Homo sapiens: one gene and its partners. The protein of the gene in region 1 purifies or fractionates together with the protein of each later gene. This does not show direct contact. Each region holds a gene or a part of one and is shown in the gene's direction. Other genes may lie near its edges.

The links.
Region 2: the proteins of AACS (region 1) and DNAJC17 fractionate together in Homo sapiens (co-fractionation; one large-scale study listed by BioGRID). This does not show direct contact.
Region 3: the proteins of AACS (region 1) and SPSB4 purify together in Homo sapiens (co-immunoprecipitation; one large-scale study listed by IntAct). This does not show direct contact.
Region 4: the proteins of AACS (region 1) and ADISSP fractionate together in Homo sapiens (co-fractionation; one large-scale study listed by BioGRID). This does not show direct contact.

Annotation. Positions count from the first base shown.
Region 1 is NC_000012.12:125,137,701-125,142,469, forward strand, and holds part of AACS (acetoacetyl-CoA synthetase), read left to right. Parts: exon of another isoform or gene 1-3,228; intron 3,229-4,391; coding exon 4,392-4,529; 3' UTR 4,530-4,769.
Region 2 is NC_000015.10:40,778,681-40,784,258, reverse strand, and holds part of DNAJC17 (dnaJ homolog subfamily C member 17), read left to right. Parts: intron 1-4,261; coding exon 4,262-4,331; intron 4,332-4,655; coding exon 4,656-4,714; intron 4,715-4,948; coding exon 4,949-5,036; intron 5,037-5,578. UniProt on the Homo sapiens protein: May negatively affect PAX8-induced thyroglobulin/TG transcription.
Region 3 is NC_000003.12:141,057,150-141,062,727, forward strand, and holds part of SPSB4 (SPRY domain-containing SOCS box protein 4), read left to right. Parts: intron 1-5,578. UniProt on the Homo sapiens protein: Substrate recognition component of a SCF-like ECS (Elongin BC-CUL2/5-SOCS-box protein) E3 ubiquitin-protein ligase complex which mediates the ubiquitination and subsequent proteasomal degradation of target proteins.
Region 4 is NC_000020.11:3,760,242-3,765,819, reverse strand, and holds part of ADISSP (adipose-secreted signaling protein), read left to right. Parts: intron 1-5,578. UniProt on the Homo sapiens protein: Adipocyte-secreted protein (adipokine) that acts as a key regulator for white adipose tissue (WAT) thermogenesis and glucose homeostasis at least in part through activation of protein kinase A (PKA).

The DNA of each region.
Region 1 (4,769 bases):
CAAAACGGATACCCCGCAAGCTGACAGAAGCTGCTGTGTGTGTGTGAGTGTGTGTGTGTATGTGAATGTATACAACAATTTAGACAGTGGCAGGCTGTATTTGAAGCCTATGGAATGGCTATTCGTTAAGGAGAAGATGGGAGCACACACTCACTGGGTTCCCAGGGGAAGCTGACTTTGATGTTGCCCGGGAGCAGGGCTGATTCTGTGAGGTGTAACTAGAGACAGGATTTACCAGGAGAGTCTGCTTCCTGGAGAATGTTGAAATATCTGATGCCGTTTACTTTGAAACCCGTAGATCATTCTCTTTGCCTTAAAAGTTATTTCAACATCTTCAAAACAACCTGTCCAGGAGTGGGGGCTGGGGAGAGCGCTTGCAGCACGACAACGGTGTGCAATCCCTGATCATCCCTGGAAGACTGACTCCTACTCGGGACCCTGTTCCTCCTCCTCCCGGCGCCTGTCCACATCTGCGCTGACTCCCACTCGGGACCCCTGTCCCTCCTCCTCCCGGCGCCTGCCCGCATCTGCGGTGTTGGTTGCTTTTTGTGGTGTCCACACGTTTCCTTTGTGTTCTGGTTCTGCATGGGAAGAGCCCTGCAGCTTGGGGCTTTCCATCCATCTCTTTCTTTTTCCCTTATTTTTGGTTGGTGACTCTTGGCGGCTCTCTGTGGGGACACTGATGCTCTCCAAGAAGGTACTTCTTGAATCAGTGACCCTTATTGTCTTTTTCTGATGAGGGTCTAAGGTTTTCCTTCAGTGAATCAGTGCTGTCTTATCTGGAACATTTTAGGGAACTGGAATTTGCATTTATCCCCTTGGCTTTATATTATTGAAAAAGAACTTAGGTCTTTTGCTGCCAAAACAGTTGTTACCAAACCATATTTGATCACGAGAGTAGTGGAACAATTTATTATGAAGGGGGAAAACTCAGCACCTTTCTTTCCCTGGTTGTCCTGGCTTTTGTGGGCTTGCGTCCAGGGCACCCAGCTGGGCTCTGGGCTCTTTCTCTCCCCAGATAAGGTCTCCTCCTGGGTGCATTCGGGAAGTTATTTGGAGGGTTCTTCCAGATTTTTGAATGCCCTTACATTTTCGAGCCCTCACGGCAGGCTTAGGAGAGGATTTACCTCTTTTATTGCTGAGCTAGGGAGGGGTCCAGCCTCCACAGGGAGGTGACACGGCGTGGCCCCAGCCTGCCCATTCAGGAACTGGACCCACTTCAGGGTCAGAAGAGGACAACTGAGGTCTCATCTGCAAAGTCCCGGGGCCTTGCTGAGGCAGGAGAGCCTGTTGCAGGTCTGACCCTTCACATGTTGCTTGTAGGGAGTGGGCTACCCACCCCTCACCACCCCGAGAACAGCCTGAGCCCGGGGCGCATCTCTGTCTCTGTGTGGAGAGACACTGCCGCTTCTGTTCCCTGGGAAGCCAGTGCCATTTTCAGCATTTAGGGGGTTCCTGGTGAGGGCTCAGGAGAGATCTGGGCCCAGAGCCAGCCACACTCCTTGTGTTGAGTAAGACTCATCCCATCTCTGATCTGTGACACGAGGAGAGGAGCCCCTCACTCACCCGCCACAGCTCAGGGTGGTGATGCGGCACCATTGGAGTGAGCGGCCCCGGGGGACTGGGGAGGCTCTGGCCGGCGTAGTCCTTGCCGCCAGCCTTCACAGCGGGTTCTCTGAGGGTCTTTATGCACAGGGGCTCTGTCACTTAGCTCTGGCCCCCCCTCTGCCCCTGAGGCATGACTTTGGGCAACGCAGCATCCAAGCCTCAGTTTCCCCATCTCTAAGATGAGTTGACAACAGAGCCTCTCTGGTGGGTGCCGTGGGCCACAGGGTGCCCAGAACGCAGTCCCCGTGCCTCTGTTTCTGTGCTGCCTCCACTCACCGTCAGCCTTCATTCGGAGTAGGTGCGCATGCTGTGCAAAGCCCTTCCACACACCTGATCTCAGTTGCTCTCTGTGCAAAAGTCAGAGAGGCTTTCCCTGCATTTCCTGTTTGAACAGTGTCCTGGCCTCCATCTTTAGCTTTGACAGTGTTTACCATGGGGGTGCTGAGGGTGAGTTCTTGTGTATGTGCACATCTTTCTGGTGGAGTGGAGGCCTCTTGAGGACAGGAACCTTGTGGGTCTACCTCCTTTTCTTCGGAGCTCAGCTGACTGCCTGGCAAACAGCAGATGCTTTTGGTGTCTGGTGAGTGAATGGGGGGTGGGGAGCTGGTCCTGTGACCCTGGTGAGGCGGGACAAACTTGTCTTCCTCACACCCATCTTACTTCCTCTTATGAGGAAACCCAGAGAGATGAGGGGTCTTGCCCAAGGAAGGGGTGTCCATAGTCAGCTCTGCCTTCTGCTCACCCAGAATAAAGACCTGGGGACCCCGCGAGGGTCATGGCCAAGTGGAATGGACTCCTGGCATTTGAGGGCTTCCCGACTGCAGCCCTCAGGCAGCCATGGCTGTCCCAAGTCCAGCGGGCCTTTGCTCGGGTCATGGCTGGGATGTCTGGCCCTTCCTGACAGGAGGCTGCTGGGCTCCTGTCTACTTGGGGACGCCTCATGCAGGAGCTGGTGTGGGGGTGGGCAGGGGGGCGGTGGCTTCTTCCTTTCTCTTTCCCTTTCCTCTACCTTTTCCCCTCTCCCCAGAGGAAATGGTAGCAGGATTTCTTTTAAGAGGATGCTGCTGTATTTTGCCAGCGGGTGGAAGGTGGCGGTATTAGCTCCCGTGAGCTGCACGTGGACCCCTGTGTGAAGCGTAGCAGGGCACAGAGCAGGCGAGACGTTTGCATCTCACAGCGGGAGGGCCGGCGACATCACATGAAGTGACAGGCAGGCCCTTGGAAGCCGGTGCTTAGATCCTTAATTAGTTCACACGTCGACTGAATTTTCAAGTGAATGAATTTTAATTACATCTCAGGTTAAAAAAAAAAAAAGGCGCCAGTGATCGAGGACTCGTCACTGGGCTCTGTTGCTCCTGAAGTTTCCTAGCCCACAACACACCAACACTGCCAAGGGCTCTTCTGGATTCAAGGTGAAACACATGTGCCATAAATCTTGGAGCTCTGAATGTTTGGAAAGGGCCCGACTGTGAGAAGAAGTAACACACCGTCCCGTGCAGATGGCTGGCTCTGAGGAGGAGTTCATGGGAGCTTGGGGACACTCTTGCCTCTAGTTCTAGGAAGCTGGGCCACTTCTGAAGTAATGGCAATATCAATAAAGTAATGGTCTTTATCATAGAATAACGTGATAAAATATATAGAGAAGTAAAAAAGTATAAATAAAAGTAAAATCATCATAAAACATAGTAGCTAGGCACTTCTGAAGCTGTGTGTGCACTGATTCATTCACCCAGTGACTCACAGCCTTATAGCCTAGGTGCTGGCACCCCTACTTTCATTCGAGGAAGTGAACTCAGGTTCAGGAATTTACCCAGCATCCCCCAGATGGGGTGGCAGGAGCCACATCTTCCCTGAAAACTTTCTTGCCCAGGGTGTCTGCTGGGATTTAGGAATGGTCTATGCCTGCATTTTTATCCTGGTCAGGCTGACCCTGAACCCTGAGAGATACTCTTTTTTATATTCCCATCTGGAATATGCACTGCCGGGGTCAGTGGGGTGTCTGGAGGGCCCTCTCGAGGCCAGCTTGGATGTGACACGTGTCGTGGGTCCCAACGGGGCCCAGTAGAGTGTGCAGCGTTAGAAAAATGAACATGCTCGGCTGGGCGCGGTGGCTCACGCCTGTGATCCTAGCACTTTGGGAGGCCAAGATGGGTGGATCATGAGGTCAGGAGATCAAGACCATCCTGGCTAACATGAGACCATCCTGGTGAAACCCCATCTCTACTAAAAATACAAAAAATTAGCTGGGCGTGGTGGCAGGTGCCTATGGTCCCAGCTACTCAGGAGGCTGAGGTAGGAGAATGGTGTGAACCTGGGAGGGGGAGCTTGCAGTAAGCGGAGATTGCACCACTGCACTCCAGCCTGGGTGACAGAGTGCGACTCTGTCTCAAAAAAAAAAAAAAGAAAAAAAAAGAAAAAAAGAAAAATGAACATGCTCATGGTGACCTCTGGGCAACTTTGAAATAGCCTCAGTTTCTCAACAGCCGTGCCAGGGGGCGGGGGTGGGGTGTGGAGAGTGTTAGAGTTGAGTTTCAGCACCAGTCCTTGAAAGTGCCTTTCAGAAGAACAGGTTTTATCCCCCAAACAGAGAGACAGTGGTCAGTTCACCGTACTTCGGTGCACGTTTGCAGACCTGGTGGGAAGAGGGGCATCTTAGAGCCGAGACCCATTCACTCTTGGCACTCCAGGTGGAGCTGGGCCTTTGGGGCCTGGATATATCCAGGGCTGCGGATTTTCCCCCCTTCAGGTTTAAATGTTCCTGTTTTTCTACCTTTCCCTCGCAGTATACGCTCAACGGCAAGAAAGTGGAAGTTGCCGTCAAACAGATCATCGCTGGAAAAGCCGTGGAGCAAGGAGGTGCTTTCTCGAACCCCGAGACCCTGGATCTGTACCGGGACATCCCTGAGCTGCAGGGCTTCTGAGTCAGACTGGCTGGCGTGTCACTCAGCCGCACCCGTGTGCACTGTAACTTTTGTGTGCTCAAGAAATTATACAGAAACCTACAGCTGTTGTAAAAGGATGCTCGCACCAAGTGTTCTGTAGGCTTGGGGAGGGATCGTTTCTCTGTTTTGTTAAATCTGGTGGGTACCTGGATCTTCCACACGAGTGGGATTCTGGCCTTCAGAGACCAGGAGGGAGTGTCTGGGCCGCAGGTGTGGCAC
Region 2 (5,578 bases), on another chromosome or scaffold:
CCCTTCTGTCTTGCTTTCTTACTGCTCCTTCTTTTTTTTTTTGAGACAGAATTTTATTTTTGTCGCCCAGGCTGGAGTGCAGTGGTGCAATCTCGGCTCACTGCAACCTCCGCCTCCCAGGTTCCTGCCTCAGCCTCCCTAGTAGCTGGGACTACAGGCGTGTGCCACCACGCCCAGCTAATTTTTGTATTTTTGGTAGAGACGGGGTTTTACCACGTTGGCCAGGCTGGTCTCGAATTCCTGACCTCAACTGATTCGCCCGCCTCAGCCTCCCAAAATGCTGGGATTACAGGCGTGAGCCACCACACCCAGCCTGCTCCTTCTTCTTCACACTCACTTCTACTCCCCCTCTCAGATTTATAACAAGGAACATACAAACTTTTATTTTATTTTTTTGAGACAGAGCCTTACTCTGTCACCCAGGCTGGGGTACAGTGACACGATCTCAGCTCACTGAAGCCTCTGCCCCCCGGAATCAAGTGATTCTTCTGCCTCAGCTTCCCCCATAGCTGAGATTACAAGCATGCACCACCACACCCGGCTAATTTTTATATTTTTAGTAGATACAAGTTTCACCATGTTGGCCAGGCTGGTCTCAAACTCCAGACCTCAAGTGATCCACCCACCTCGGCCTCCCACAGCGATGGGATTAGAGGTGTGAGCCACCATGCCCAGCCTAAACCACTTTAAAAGAGCCCCATGATACAAAAGAAAACATCTTCCACAAAACCCCCCTACATCCCTGGGGCAAGCCTACTAGTCCTAGTCCTGAGGAAGTTCATCTTGAAGGTAGTGTTGCAGGTGATGCCATAGATACTGGGACATGGACCGCCTCCCCCTCCCTTCCTCTCACCCATCCCAGAGAGAGGGTGGAGATAGGATCAGAGAGGAGGGGCCCAGAGGCCAGGAACAAACACCCAACAGACTCCTGTCAGTGTGTGTAGGTGCTTTTATATGTGTTAATGAACCTTGATGTCAGAGGGCTGGGGAGATTGAGAAAGAACATCTTTATAATGTTTTTGGTATTGTTTTACTTATTGAAAAAAAGCAAACAGGGGCCCTGAAATATAAAATATGTTCAGTAAAGGAATGAGGCTGGAGGCACAATAAAGCAGGCAAAGAGAGCAAAAGAAAGAAAAGACGAATGATAAGGGACCTAAAAAGTAAAGATGATATATTGCAAAGATGACACTGTCTTAAGCTAGCACCTCCTTTCCCTTAATATTGTTCTTTTTTGTAGTGAAAACAGAGCTAGGCAGGGAGGGTTAGGGTGGGAGGTGAGCAGGCAGGGCAGATGTGCTTCGGTGGGCGATTGGGAAGGCAGGTGGCACGTCTACACCCTCTCTGCCCAGCGCCTGTCCTGGGTGGTTCCTGCTGCCTCCAAGGCAGTCAGGAGAACCAAACAGCTTGGGCTGCCATGGCAGGTGCCCTGGCTATGGCCCAGCAGGTGGCAGCACACCCCTAGAGGTCCTGGGCCCGGTGGCTGCCTCATGGATGGAGGAGTTGCCCAGCAGGTGCTCACCTTGTGGATGCTGGCTGCTTACCTCTGAAAGTCCTTATTTAGCACACTTGGGTGTAGAAGCGTTTCTTGCGTCCATCTTGGAAGCTTAGAAATCCAATCTGCTTAGCTCTTCCTCCAGGAGGTTTGAGCAGCAGGTAACACACACCAAGCAGAAGGGAGAAAGCAAAGGCCTTGGAGGCAGAGGACGGATTCTGGGGTTGTGTACACTGTCTTCACTTACAACAGCTATTAGGTAGCACACGAAAGAGAATCTTGGTAGCTGTGTTTATTTTTACTTATGTAAGAAATATTGGGGTTTCTTTCTTTCTATGTATTTAAGAGAGAGTCTTGCTCTGTCACCCAGGCTGGAGTGCAGTGGCATCATCATAGCTCACGGCAGCCTCAAAATCCTTGGCTGAGGTGATCCTCCCTCCTCAACCTCCTTAGTAGCTGGTACTGCAGGCACGCACCACTATGCCTGGCTAATTTTTTATTTTATTTTAATTTAATTTAAAATTTTTTTATTTTTATTTTTGAGACAAGGTCTCACTCTGTCACCTAGGCTGAAATGCAGTGGTGTGAACATGCTCACTACAGCTTCAACCTCCCGGGCTCCAGTGATCCTCCCACCTCAGCCTCCTGAGTAGGGGGACAAAGGCACATGCTACCACACCTGGCTCATGTTTAAAAAATTTTTGTAGAGATGAGGTCTTGCCATGTTGCCCAGGCTTGGCTGGAACTCCTGGGCTCAAGCGATCCTCTCGCCTCAACCGCCTGAGTAGCTGGGACTACAGGCATGCACCACCACACCTGACAAAAAAAAATTTTTTTTTTTTGAGACAGAGTCTCATTCTGTCTCCCAGGCTGCAGTGCAATGGTGTGATCTCGGCTCACTGCAACCTCTGCCTCCCAGGTTCAAGCGATTCTCCTGCCTCAGCCTCTCGAGTAGCTGGGACTACAGGCGCCCGCCACCATGCCTGGCTAATTTTTTTGTATTTTTAGTAGAGACGGGGTTTCACCGTGTTAGCCGGGATGGTCTCAATCTCCTGACCTCGTGATCCACCTGTCTCGGCCTCCCAAAGTGCTGGGATTACAGGCTTGAGCCACCGCACCTGGACTAAACTCAAAAGTTTATAATAAGATCTATGTCAGAACATGGATACCTCTGTCTACTATAATATTTTATTTAAAAAAAATTTTAATAAGCGTGGCAAATTCCTGAACAAACTTTTTGAAATTTATTTTTTATTATTTTTTTGAGACAAGGTCTCCCTCTGTCACTCAGGCTAGAGTACAATGGCATGATCTCGGCTCACTGCAACCTCCGCCTCTGGGGCTCAAGTGATTCTCCTGCCTCAGCCTCCCAAGTAGCTGGGTCTACAGGTGCACGCCACCATGCCCGGCTAATTTTTGTATTTTTAATAGAGACAGGGTTTTGCTTTGTTGGCGAGGCTGGTCTCGAACTCCTGACCTCAAGTGATCTGCCCACCTCAGCCTCCCAAAGTGCCAGGATTACAGGCATGAGGATTACAGGATTACATGCCAGGATTACAGGATTACACCATGTCTGGCCAATCATAATCTTTTTTTTTTTTTTTTTTTTTCTGAGATGGAGTCTCGCTCTTGTCCCACAGGCTGGAGTGTAGTGGCACAATCTTGGCTCACTGCAACCTCTGCCTCCTGCATGAATCAAGCGATTCTCATGCCTCAGCCTCCCAAGTAGGGGGATTACAGGGGAATATGTCATCACACCCAGCTAATTTTTGTATTTTTAGTAGAGATGGGGTTTCGCCATGTTGGCCAGGCTGGTCTCCTACTCCTGACCTCAAGTGATCCACCCGCCTCAGCCTCCCAAAGTGCTGTGATTACAGGCGTGAGCCACCATGTCCGGCCTCAATCATAATCTTTTATTTTATTTTTTATTTTATTTTATTTTATTTTATTTGAGACAGAGTCTTGCTCTGTCGCCAGGCCGGAGTGTAGTGGTGCGATTTCGGCTCACTGCAACCTCCGCCTCCTCGGTTCAAGCGATTCTCCTGCCTCAGCCTCCCAAGTAGCTGGGATTACAGCTGCCCGCCACTATGCCTAGCTAATTTTTGTATATTTAGTAGAGATGGAGTTTCACTATGTTAGTGAGGCTGGTCTCAAACTCCTGACCTCAGGTGATCTGTCCACCTCAGCCTCCCAAAGTGCTGGGATGACAGGCGTGAGCCACCGCACCGGCCAATCATAATCTTTTAAATGAGTCTCCCCGTTGATGGGGATCTTGGCTGGCTAGTATCAACAGTGTTGTAGAGAGCATCCTTGTATATTTATTTTTGCCATACTTCTACAAGTCCAGATTCCTAGGACTTGGGTCAAAGGGAAAGAACATTTTAAATTTTGATGGCTGAATTTTCTTCCAGATAGGTTGCCCCAGTTTATATGCCCACCAAGAATGTGTAGAGTACCTGTCTTCGAGTGGCTGTCGAGAAAGCGGGGTACTGTGCTCCTGCCTGTTGCAGCAGCCCCTGGACATCTGCAGTGGTGAGGTTGAGCACTTAGCAGGAGGTGGGCCCAGCTCCTGTGCTGGGCGACAGTGGCTCACTCCCTCCATGGCCTTGGCCTCCTCCATTGCCAGTCTCCCTGGTGGCTAGGAAGTGGGCGCCAGCAGCTTCTCTTTTAGGTGTGCATGGGATTCCCCTTACCCATTGAGCAAGGTTTTCCTGTTTGTCCCTGGGATGAGAGTGAATGGCCATGTCTTCTGTCTGACTCTTCCAGGTAAAGAAGGCGTATAGGCAGAAGGCCCTCTCCTGCCACCCAGACAAAAATCCAGATAATCCCAGAGCAGGTGAGACTCTTCTCAGGGCGTGGGGAGAAAGAAACCCACTCACCCGGGCATTGTGTTTCCCGATGTAAGCTCTGCATGTGAGTGCTGTGGGGTGTAAGCACACATTGCCTGGCTCCAGGCAATGGGTCCCAGGGCTTCCCTCCTGTGAGGGGTGTCTGGTCAGTTGCTGATATGCTCACCCCTCCTTGTTGGTCTGTCATCTGCTGATGTCGGCTTGTCTGCCATCCTGTGACTTCTTTGAAGATTTTTTTTTTTTTTGAGGGAGCACACCATTACGAAGTCTTAACTTTATTTTTCTTCTGTCTTTTTGATCCTTATGTTTAGCTGAACTCTTCCACCAGCTTTCTCAGGCCTTGGAGGTGCTGACCGATGCTGCAGCCAGGGTAAGCACAGCCTCCTTCATCGGAATCGTCCCCCATGGTTAGAGACCACTGCTGCCTCTCAACCTCGGTCCTCTGCCCTTTGCCATGTGGCACAGTCCTTGCTGTCTAAGCCCAGGAGACCCAGTCACCAGGCTGCCACTCTGATGGCTCGTGGGCTAGGGGCCAGGCAGATTGCCGGGGCTCTGTCTTTACTCTCTCACTGACCCTCTGCCCTGTGCCCCTTTCTCCTGCCAGGCTGCATATGACAAGGTCAGGAAAGCCAAGAAGCAAGCAGCAGAGAGGACCCAGAAACTTGATGAGAAAAGGAAGAAAGTGAAGCTTGGTAGGTGCCATCATAGTGCTCGGTGGCCTGTGGTTTCCTGTGGTCATTTTCATTCATCTCCCTCACCTGAAGCTTCACTTCCAGCAACTCATCTCAAAGCCTTTTGGCTCAGGCTCTGGGCAAAACGCTGTTCTTAGAGGTTGGTTCCTAAAGACACTCTTAGGAATAATAACAATAATAAGGTTTAATATTAGCTAAGCATTGTGACAAATGCCTTATTGTCCCTTTAATTATCATAACTATACAAGGAAGTGTGGGTACTAAACCTTTTTTAAGAACATGGTTTTTTGAGACAGGGTCTCACCCTGTCACCTAGGCTGGAGCGCAGTGGCATGATCTCGGCTCACTGCAACCCCCACCCTCTGGGTTCAGGCGATTCTTGTGCCTCAGCCTCACGATAGTGGGACTACAGGCATGCACCACTACGCCCGGCTAATTTTGTTCCGTTTTTTTAGAGATGGAGTTTCACCATGTTGGCCAGGCTGGTCTTAAACTCCTGGCCTCAAGCTATCCACCTCAGTCTCCCAAAGTGCTGGTATTAC
Region 3 (5,578 bases), on another chromosome or scaffold:
GCCCAGCCAGTTGTAGCCTGAGCTCCATGTGTGTATAGCAGGGAAAAGCTAATGAATGCCTATGAACAAAACCTTGGGGGTTCTTTAGTTCATTCATTGTTGGTGGGTTCATTCTGAATGAGCATCTTTAATAAAACAGCCTCCCTACTTAATATTTGCACAAGAAAAATCTTAAAAACATTCCAGTTAAACTAAGGTCAGGCACCTATCATTGGTACCTTTGCACAGAGTCAAAAATTGAAAAATAAAGACATGAAATAAATAGTCTGAGCTCACAGTGCTCTGCATTCCCAGTTCATTCTTAAGTGTTGGTTCTTTCTAAGGCAGTGTATTGCTTTTCTTCATTTGTTCGTGCTCGTGCATTCCATAGACGTTCACCCACCACTTTCTCTAAGCCAGGTCCATGGGGACTCTGATGAGGGACACCCGGCCCCTGCTCCCAAGTTGCCCCAGTCCGATGGGAGGGAGGCAGCCAAAGAGACATCATGTCCCCTTGTGATAAGAGCTGTGGTGGGCACAAGTACAAGGGCTCTGAGAGCACAGGGGGCTGGGGAGCTCCCCAGAGGCACTAATATCTAATATCCTGAAAGCCTCAGAGAACCTGTCGAGGATTTTGAGCAGGAGCGTGATTAGATCAACTGTGTACTTTTACAAGTGCAGTAGTATATATTTGAAAGTAATATGCAGTCTATAAAGGAATTCCAGTGGTATCTAACTGGATTTCTTTTTACAGTCTTTGTCATTATTCAGATCTCTCGTGGAGTCTGACCCCTTTGGTGTAGGCTGTCTCCCTAAGGGAAAGTGGTTGAGTCTTATGCTTTTCAGCAGCCTGAGATCCCCAGGGCAGGCATCATTACTGCTGGCTAGATGAAAGAAGGAGACTTGCCCCCACCTCTGGCTCCAGCAAGTCCAAAGCCAGAGGCCACACAGAGAGAAGGGCATTTCACGCAGTCACTACCAATCCCCACAGCAGTCATGTCTTCTTGCAGACCCCGTGCCTATTGAGCTCAGCTAGACAGGCCTCTGTGGCTGTGATTTTGGGTCCCAGGCCTCTGAAGACTGTGCATCATATTTTTCAAACTAATGAGGTTCCTTAAACAGTGTGGCATTGCCACTTCATGTCTCCTCATTTCCCTGTCGGGTAGGAACATCTGCTAGGGTCCTGGGAAAGGCAATTAGCAAATTAGAGTTTTTGTTTTCTTGCTCAGCCATGATTGAAGCCCCAGAGCAGATCCTTCTGGATAATGTCATTAAGCATCCCCATCCAAGCATGACGTAGGAAATTAAGTTTGGTTTTGGGGAAAAGTGACGGAGGCATCCTTTGGCGTTCTTCAGGATGCTGGCTGCTTACTGGGTTGAGAGATGATGGTATTCCTGTCAGGAAGATGGATCCTGTTGTATGTCCCATGTGCCTGGCCCAGTGCTGCATGCTGTAGTGGAGATGAGGAGAGGAGAAATGTGCTAAGTGCCCACTCCCTCTGGCTGGAGAGAGAAGGCAGGGATGAGCCCGACTTGGCCACTGCTGTGTCCCTTGCTCTCAGCTGCACAGTGCCTGGCACTGTGTTCACTAAGCATTTTTTGAACGAATAAATGAGGGTTGGAAGCAGGGAAGGATGCAAAGCAGTAGCTAATAAAGGAGTAGACTGGATACAGCCAAGAGTCAGCTGCTCAGGAGTGAGAGTCCAACTATGATAGTGGCATTACTGGGCTTCATGTCCCCATATCCTGACTTTAGCCCTGGCCCTTTCTCTGCTTCATCCTCTGAAAAACAGCAGAGCATGAGCCCTCCCTGAAGCCCAGCACAACCTCTCCACAGTCCATATGTGTGTTCTGCCCCATGTTCAAAGTACCAGGCTTGTGTCTTGCATGGAGGGAGTAGTGCAGTGGCTGGGGGCACAGAAGTGCTGGTGAAAGTTTCCTGCCATCAGAGGAATGCCCTCAAGGTAGAAAAAAGCAGATCAGTAAGGCCTGAAAGATGTCCCCCTGGCTGGCTCAAGGGTGGACAGAGGTACAGGGCAGGCCCCAGGAGGCCTACTGGATCAGGGCAGGCTTCCTAGAGGAGGTGGAGCTCACCCTCATGGACTAATTATCTCTCAAAGGCTCCACCTCCAAATACTATCACACTGGGGCTTTGTGTTAGGCCATTTTTGCATTGCTATAAAGAAATACCTAAGACTGAGTAATTTATAATGAAAAGAAGTTTAGTTGGCTCACGGTTCTGCAGGCTTTACAGGAAGCACGGTGCTGGCATCTGCTTGGCTTCTAGAGAGGCCTCAGGAAGCTTACAGTCATGGCAGAAGGTGAAGGAGGAGAAGGCATGTCACATGGTGAAAACAAGAGCAAGAGGCGGGGGTGGGGAGGTGTCACACACTTTTAAATGAGCAGATATCTCTCCAGAACTCAGTCACTATCCCTAAGACAGCACCAAGCCATGACAGACTCACCCCCATGACCCAGACAGCTCCCACCAGGCCTCACCTCCAGCACTGAGGATTACAACTCAACATGAGATTTGAGCAGGGACAAATATCCAACCTATATTAGGCTTCAACATGTGAATTTGGGGAGGACACAATCAGTTCATAGCCAGGCACATTCAAGTGGTGAAATGGCAATGTTGGAACACATCCACAATTTAAAAGAGCACTCACCACTTACTGGAAGCCCTGTGATGTGCCAGACTTTACAGGTGTCTGCTCTGATACTTGCAAAAGCAGGTGAGGTTAGCACATAGTTAGCAGCACTTCCAACCAGTCTCAGAGAGATTAAGTTCTGGCCTAGGGTCCAACAGACAGGTGGGGATTCACATCTAGGTCTCCTGTCCTTCATTAGATTGCCCAGCTGCTAGTTTCCCTTAACGGCTTATCATTCATGGACATGAGCACTCTGCTGTGCGCCCTGTACTGGGGGAGCAGCAAAGGGGCTGTCTATTTACTTGCCCACCTTGTCACACCACAGTGTGAGCACTCTTCAGGATCTCTGCCTGCCTCTAGTAGGGACAGAGACTTTGAGACTATGATTGCAAAGGAGAGCACTGGGCCCTCAATGACCCAGTATGGGCCAAGCCAAGTACTAGTAAGAGGTCTTCCCTGGGGCTGCTGTTTGGCTGTTGCTTTCAAACATGTTTAAGTGTCTTTTCAGCAACAGCAACTCCACAGTTGGCATGGTTGTGTGCAAGGATAAAGCAGTTTCCCTTAGAAATTTTCTGTGTGGGCCACACAGAGCTGGTTACAGTCATTGCTGTGGAGAGGGCATTATTCTAAACAACATGGAGGAAGAAGTAAGAGCACAGGCTTGTCATATGGTAACTCTGGGGTTGATCCCAGTCCTGCCACTTCCTGGCTGTGTGACCCCAGGTTATGCAAGTTATGCAACCTCTCTGAGCCCGGGCTGCTATTGCAAAGAGTGCTGCGTATGTATGCAGTATGTATGCATGTGCTGTGTACATAGGTAGTTTTGTGCATTTGAGAACATATCTGAATAAATGCTGGAAGTAGAATTGCTAGGTCAAAGGGTCTGTATATTTGCAATTCTGAAAGATGGTGTTAATTTGCCATTTGCCGAGGCTAAACCAGTTTATATCCACTTTAGCAATGTATGAGTCTGTCTTCTGTTCCACACATTCTCCAAGCATGCGTTATCCATTTTTTTGACCTTTAATAAGCTGATAGACAAAAATGGCATTTCAATGGAGTTCTAACTCATTTCTTTTTCAGTATACATTGAGTATCTTTTCAAAGGAACCATTTGTTTTTGTGTAAACTGTTGATATCTTTTCATATTTTGTACTTGTATTCATTTGTAGGAGTTTGACATATATTTGTTGGTAATTTGTGTTGCAAATTTTTTCTTATGTTAAAACAAGTCTAACTTCTTTTACAAGTGCTTTCAGCTACACCGTTTTGTTATTTCCCATTTTCATTTCTTGTTTTACATATTTCTGTCTTCTCCCCCATTAAATGATTATATGGTTTATGTTTTATGTGTTTTTAAAAATTTAGTTACTTATGCATTTAAAGTATATTTAGTGATATGTGAAAATGCAAATTACATAATTTTTAGGTGAAATAATCTAAATAAAGGCCCATTATACCAATTTTTAAAAAGAAAATTCATTATAATTTATAGACCAAAAAAAAAGAGAGAATAAAGCAAAATTCCTCCAAAAGCTGACAATGTTTATATCTGGTTAATGAGATAGGAGAAAGAGGTGAATTCTAGTTTTTGTCCTTTTTTTGTATTCTCTAAAATTTAGACATTTATTTAACCTTTTCTAATTAATGAGCTTTATTTCTTCAGAATAGTTTTAGATTTAAAGAAAAACTAAACAGATAGTACAGAGAGGTCCCATATGCTCACTCCATTTATCACCCTAGTTTCCCCAATTATTAGCATCTTACATTAGTATGGCACATTTATCACAACTAATGAACCAGTATTGATACATTATTATTAACTTATTTTAATAATTAATATTAATAATTGTTATTAACATATTTTTTCAGATTTCCTTTTTTTCTCAGATTTCAGTTTTTACCTAATATCCTTTTTCTTCTCTTTCTTTCTTTTTCTTTCCTTTTCTTTCTTTCTTTTTTTTTTTTTTTGAGATGGAGTCTCCCTCTGTCACCCAAGCTGGAGTGCAGTGGCACGATCTTGGCTTACTGCAACCTCCACCTCCTGGGTTAAAGCAGTCCTCCCACCTCAGCCTCCAAAGTAGCTGGGACTACAGGCGTGTGCCGCCACACCTGGCTAATTTTATTTTTTTAGTAGAGACAGCATTTCACCATGTTGGCCAGGCTAGTCTTGAACTCTTGACCTCAAATGATCCACCTGCCTTGGCCTCCCAAAGTTCTGGGATTACAGGTGTGAGCCACCAAGCCCAGCCCCTAATATCCTTTTTCTGTTCCAGATCCCATCCAGGATACCACATTATGTGGAATTGTTAGGTCTCCTTAGGGCCCTCTTCACTATGATGGTTTCTCAGACTTTGGTTCCGATGACCTTGCCGGTTAGGTCAGGTATTTTGTGGGATGGCCTCCAGATGGAATTTGTCCTTTGTTTTTCTCATGATTAGAGTGAGGTTATGGGTTTTGGGGAAGACACCCAAAGGAAGATTTCATTATATCATATCAAGGGTACACACTATCAACATGATAGATTAATATAATAGTAATATAATAATATAACATAATATAATATGATACATTACATGATTAGCTTTAATAGTTTATATGTTTTATTGATTTTGTTTTGTTTTTGTGGTAGTTTTTCCCAAAGAACCATCTCTTTAGTTTTTGCTTAGTTCTATTATTTCCCTATTTTATTATGCTCCATTCATTTTTTAAAATTTAATAGCATAAATATATCAGCCATGATTTCCTCTGAGAACTGCTGTAGAGGCACCCCGCAGGTTCTAGTATGTGGAATGCTTTTTGTTATTGTTGTATTCCAGATATTCTGCAATTTCTATATGGATTTCTTTTTTGATCTGAGTTGGGGTCAAGTTGTTTAAAGAATTTTTTAAAATGCCTAAGTGATAGGATTTTGTGATCTATAATTTTGTGATTAATTTCTAGTT
Region 4 (5,578 bases), on another chromosome or scaffold:
TTGTGACCCCCTCTGGTTAGGGGGACTGGAAACTCCCAGCATCTGTTCTCTGACCCTCCCTAGGGACCTGGCTGCTTTGGGAGTGGGAGAAGGGGGAGGCAGGAGGAGGGAGGCCCCCTCACCCCTTGAGCTGTTTTCCAAGAAGGCTGACGTCCCTGGGGCCCACTCTAAGGGTCACTCCTGGCTCCTCCAGGATTGGCCTGAAGTGCCTCTCTGACGGTGCTGCTGAAACTGCTGTTGCTTTAGAAACCAGGCCTTTGGGGGTTTGCTTTTGCAGAGATGGGGGGTGCATTGTCACAGAGCTTCAGGCACAGTTGCAGCAAACCCTGGAAGGAAGAGGCCACTGCTTATTCCTGTGTTACACATTAGGAAACAGGGACAGAGAAGTGAAAGAACTCACCCATGCAGCTAGCAAGGGCAGATCCTGAATTTGAACCAGGACTGCTGCCTCTGGGGGCCATGTGGATTGAGCCATGGTGAGGCCTTGGTTGGCACAGGAGGAGGCTGGAGGCAGGGCCAGGCTTGGGGTTGTGTGGTGGCCTAGCTGTTCTCTGTGGACACAGCTGCAGCAGGGGAGGCCCAGTGCCCTCTTTGCCTGTTTCTGATGAGGAATTGTGTGTGCACAAGAGTCTAGCTCCCCGAGGACAGCGACCAGCAGGTTCTCCATTGAGAAAGGAGGTTTGGTTTTCCCAGTTTCCTTTGGGTTCCTGAAGTCCCTTGCTTCCTGCCTCTATGTTGTCACTATCCAGAGGGTTACAGGCCCTCAGTGTTTGCCCTTTACTGAGTACTGGCACTGCATGAGATGTGGGTCCTACCCTCAGTGGGCATGGGGCATGTCCCTCTCAAAGCAGGCATGGACAGGTAACCAGCTGACTGCAGCAAGGCCTGAGGAGTCCCAGTGGGAGGCCACTTGGTGGGGGCCAGGGAGAGGGAAGTGCCCCCCAGGGCAGGGGTGAGGCAAAAGAGTGGGGTGGGGAGTTCTGCTTCCTCAGAGCCCCCAGTGCAGTCACTGGCCCTGACCATATCATTTAGGGCTGAAGTACGGGCCTTGGCCAGGCCCTCCAAGCAAATGTGATGTGGTCATTCATTCAACAAACATAAACCAAACACAGCTCCTCCCTGTCTGGTGCTGCGCTGAGTGCCGGGGACACAGGGTTTGACAAAAACACAGTCACTACCCTTGTAAGGTGAGGAAGAGGGATATCAAATGATCCCAGACATGAGAAAGGGGATTCCAAAAAGAGCTGTAGTCCTGTCCTGGGATTTGCAGGGTGTGCATCCTTAAAAAAGAAATGTTGGGGCTGAGACCCTGTCGAAGGTGTGGCTGGGAGGGACGGGATTGTTCCTGGCTGAAGGGATGACCTGGGCAAAGGCAGGGCGGGGGGACGGTCAGGCAGTAGGTTGGGAGGAAGACAGGGAGGGTGCCCTGCATGGACCAGTTCAGAGTGTTTTGTGAAAAGGGCCTGCAGCCTTTGCTCACCAGCCACTGGTGCAGTTTAACCAGAGCCTTCAGGAAGCATCCTGGGAGATGGGGGGACCTTGAGGACACTGGGCTGTCACTGCCTCCTGGCTGCAGAGGTGTGGCTGGAGCAGCCTCTGCAGGATAGGAGGGCCTCACACTCTTGTGCTTGGCCATTTGTCATATACTCTGAGTTCACAGCTTTGGGGGCAGCTGTAGTCGGGGGGCGGTTACGGCAGGCTGCTCTCCAAGACCAAGTTCCCTGGGGACAAGCTGAGCTTTCCAGGGCTGAGGCAACTGACCCCACAGTGGCCCTGGCCAGAGGTGAATGGGTGTAGCTCCACTTCCTGCACCCTGGGCTGGGGCCTGGAAGCTCACCTCCAAGAGGGGGTTGCTGGCCTGGTCCATTGGCCAAAGGGGGCTCCTGGTGGTACCCAAACTGTGAACACCCTGCCCATGAGGCAGGGCTTGGGCCTGGGTGGACTTTGCCCACATTGAGAAGTGGGGAGCGAGGTGAGGCCACATCTGCTCCCAGAGCAGCTTGGCACCAGAGGGACCTTGAGATCATGCCCTCCACAGGCCCAGCCCTAAACTATGAGGCCACCCTGTAGTTCCTCTTCTGTCCCTGGACTGATGAGCCAGTGTCACTCATCTCTAAGTTGTTCAGTATGTTTCCCTGACAAAATAAGGACATAATTCTTTACATAATACAATTCCATGATCAACTCATTTCTTAGTGTTACCTCATATCCAGGCCATTTACATTTTCCAGATCCCCCAAATGTCTTTTTTTTTTTTTTTTTGAGACGGAGTTTTGCTCCTTTTGCCCAGGCTAGAGTGCAGTGGCGCAATCTCGGCTCACCGCAACCTCCGCCTCCTGGGTTCAAGCGATTCTCCTGCCTCAGCCTCCCGAGTAGCTGGATTACAGGCATGCGCCACCACGCCTGGCTAATTTTGTATTTTTTAGTAGAGACAGGGTTTCTCCATGTTGGCCAGGCTGGTCTTGAACTCCCGACCTCAGGTGATCCGCCCGCCTCAGCCTCCCACAGTGCTGTGATTACAGGCGTGAGCCACCTCACCCGGCCTTTTTTTTTTTTTTTTTTTTGAGACAGAGTCTCGCTCTGTCACCCAGGCTGGAGTGCAGTGGCGGGATCTTGGCTCACTGCAACCTCCGCCTCCCAGGTTCAAGCGATTCTCCTGCCTCAGCCTCCTGAGTAGCTGGGATTACAGGTGCACACCACCATGCCTAGCTGATTTTTGTATTTTTAGTAGAGATGGGGTTTCGCCATGTTGGCCAGGCTGGTCCCAAACTCCTGACCTCAGGTGATCTACCCGCCTTGGCTTCCCAAAGTGCTGGGATTACAGGTGTGAGCCGCAGCGCCCGGCACCCCCCAAAATGTCTTCTTTGATAGGTAGTTCGAAACACCCTCTCCTTTATTTTTCTTCTTGCAGCTGATGTGGTGAAAAAAACAGGTCAGTTGTCCTGAAGATTATCCTTTTTTGGTCTGTTAAGTGTGTGTTGATCTAGAACAAGGGTTGGCAAACTTTTGCTCTGAAGGGCCAAATAATAAATGGTTTAGACTTTGCAGGCCATATGGTCTCTATCATAACTACTTGGAAGTAACTTTGTTTTAGTGCAAAAACAGACAACATGTAAGTGAATGAAGTGTAGTGTTCTATTAGTAAAACTTTATTTGCAAAAATTTATTTGCCAGGCCTGGCGGCTCACGTCTGTAATCCCAGCACTTTGGGAGGCTGAGGTGGGTGGATCGCTTAAGCTCCGGAGTTTGAGACCAGCCTGGGCAACTCTGTCTCTACAAAAATTAGCCGGGCATGGTGGTGCGTGGCTGTGGTCTCAGCTACTTGGCAGGCTGGGGTGGGAGGATTGCTTGAGCCTGGGAGATTACGGTGGCAGTGAGCTGGACTCCAGCCTGGGCTGGACAGAGTGAGACCCTGTCTCAAAAACAAAAACAAAAACACAACAGGCAGCAACCTTACCATCAGCTGTGTAATCAGCTGTAGTTTGCTGCTTTCCTATCTAGAATAATCTCCCTCGTTTTATTTTTCTTCTTTCTTTTTTTTTTTTCTTGAGACAGAGTCTCGCTGTGTCACCCAGGCTGAAGTGCCGTGGCGCGATCTTGGCTCACTGCAACCTCCGCCTTCCGGATTCAAGTGATTCTCCTGCCTCAACCTCCCAACTAGCTGGGACTACAGCTGCCCGCCACCACACCCGGCTAATCTTTGTACTTTTGGTAGAGACTGGGTTTCACTATGTTGGCCAGGCTGGTCTTGAACTCCTTACCTTGTGATCCGTGAAAGTGCTGGGATTACAGGCGTGAGCCACCGTTCCCAGCCTGCTTTCTTTTTCTTCTTGACATTTGAAAACAAAAACAAAAACAAAAAACAGGTCAGTCATCCTGTAGAATATCCTGCCTTCTGGGCTCGTCTCATTGCTTTCTCATGGAGTCATTAAATTTGTTCCCCTCTCCTCTGTGTTTTTAGCAAATGAGAAGTTGAAGTTAGAGGCTGGTTTAGATTCCAGGTTAAACCTTTTTGGCAGGAATCCCTTGTCAGTGATGCTGTGACTTTGGGCTGCCTTACTTCAGGAGGCATCAGTGTGACAGGCTGTCCTGCAGAGAGTAGAGAGATAGACCAGTGTGTGACTGGGAGAAGTCACATACCTCCATTGCAAACTTGTGCCATTCCTCTTAAACACCAGGTCCTCGGCCAGGCATGGTGGCTCACACCTGTAATCCCAACACTTTGGGAGGCCGAAGTGAGCGGATTGCTTGAGGTCAGGAGTTCGAGACCAGCCTGGCCAACATGGTGAAACCCTGTCTCTACTAAAAATACAAAAATTAGCTAGGCGTGGTGGCGGGCGCCTGTAGTCCCAGCTACTCGGGATGCTGAGGTGGGAGAGTCGCTCGAACCCAGGAGGCAGATGTTGCAGTTAGCCGAGATCGTGCCATTGCATCCCAGCCTGGGTGACAAGAGTGAAACTCCGTCTCAGAAAAAAAAAAAAAACAAAAACCATACCAGGTCCTCTGTCAGTGACGCTTGGGCGCCTGTGAGTATCTGCTTCCTGTCAACCTTCCCCTCTGGTTTAGCATCCACTGGTTCTTGTTGCCTCCAGCATTTGTTCCTTTAGGGGTTGCAGAATGACTTAGCATTTGGTCATTTCTTTGTTATTTATTAGCAAGAATTCTTTCCGAAAGAAGAGCTTTCCATCAACCACCAGGGCAATTTGGTTACAAGAAAGGCCAAGAGACAGGCTGAATTCTTCCTCTTTAATCCTCAGCTTTCAGAGTAAAGAGGGCACTGCTACCGTCAGTGGTGACAAATGAGGGCTTTTGAGGGCTTGGGTTTGTTTGTTTTGCTTTCTCTCTTCTTTTCTAATAATCTCTGTGAATGCACTGCTTTTATGTGTTCCATCTGTTTCCATCAGTTGCACTCATTATTCTTTTTGATGCTCAGATGGTCCCAGCTCGGCCCATTGGAGGCTTCCTGGGGCGCCTCTCACTGCCCCTGTGCTGAGGCTGCCGTTGGGGAGCTGAGGCGGAGGCAGGCCTGAGACTCAGGGCAGGGTCTGAATGGGGTTCAGGTGGGGGCACACCCCCTCCACAGGCATCTGTTTTGCATATGGCCCTGACCGATCACCAGGAGGGAAAGCTCTAAGGGCACGCTTACTTTATGTGGTCCCCTGTTCTTGCCCACCATCGAGCACCCTGTTGCCTCTGACCGCACCCAGCTGCATTGCTTGTGTGACCTGAATAAGGTAGCTCCAGGCCCAGCCTTTGGGGTCAGCAGCACCAGAACTGGTCCCTGGAAAATACCAATAAAGTCCTCCTTTCCAGGCTGCCCCTCCTGCCAGTCTCTGGGGGTGCTGGGGATAGGAGTCCTATGCTGTTGCTTTGGCACCTAGAAGCTGCAGCTCAGCACATGCTGGCAGGACCCTGAGTCACTGGGGTATCAGGAAGGGGTGAGGGCTCTTGGTGAATGTGGGCAGTCGGTAGAGGGTGGGCAGAAGCCCCCGTGCTAGAGAGTACAGGCACCACTTGGGCTGCTGAGAGCGGTAGGGGTTTGAGTCCTTCCTAAAGGGAGCTCCTCTGGTGTCCCTGA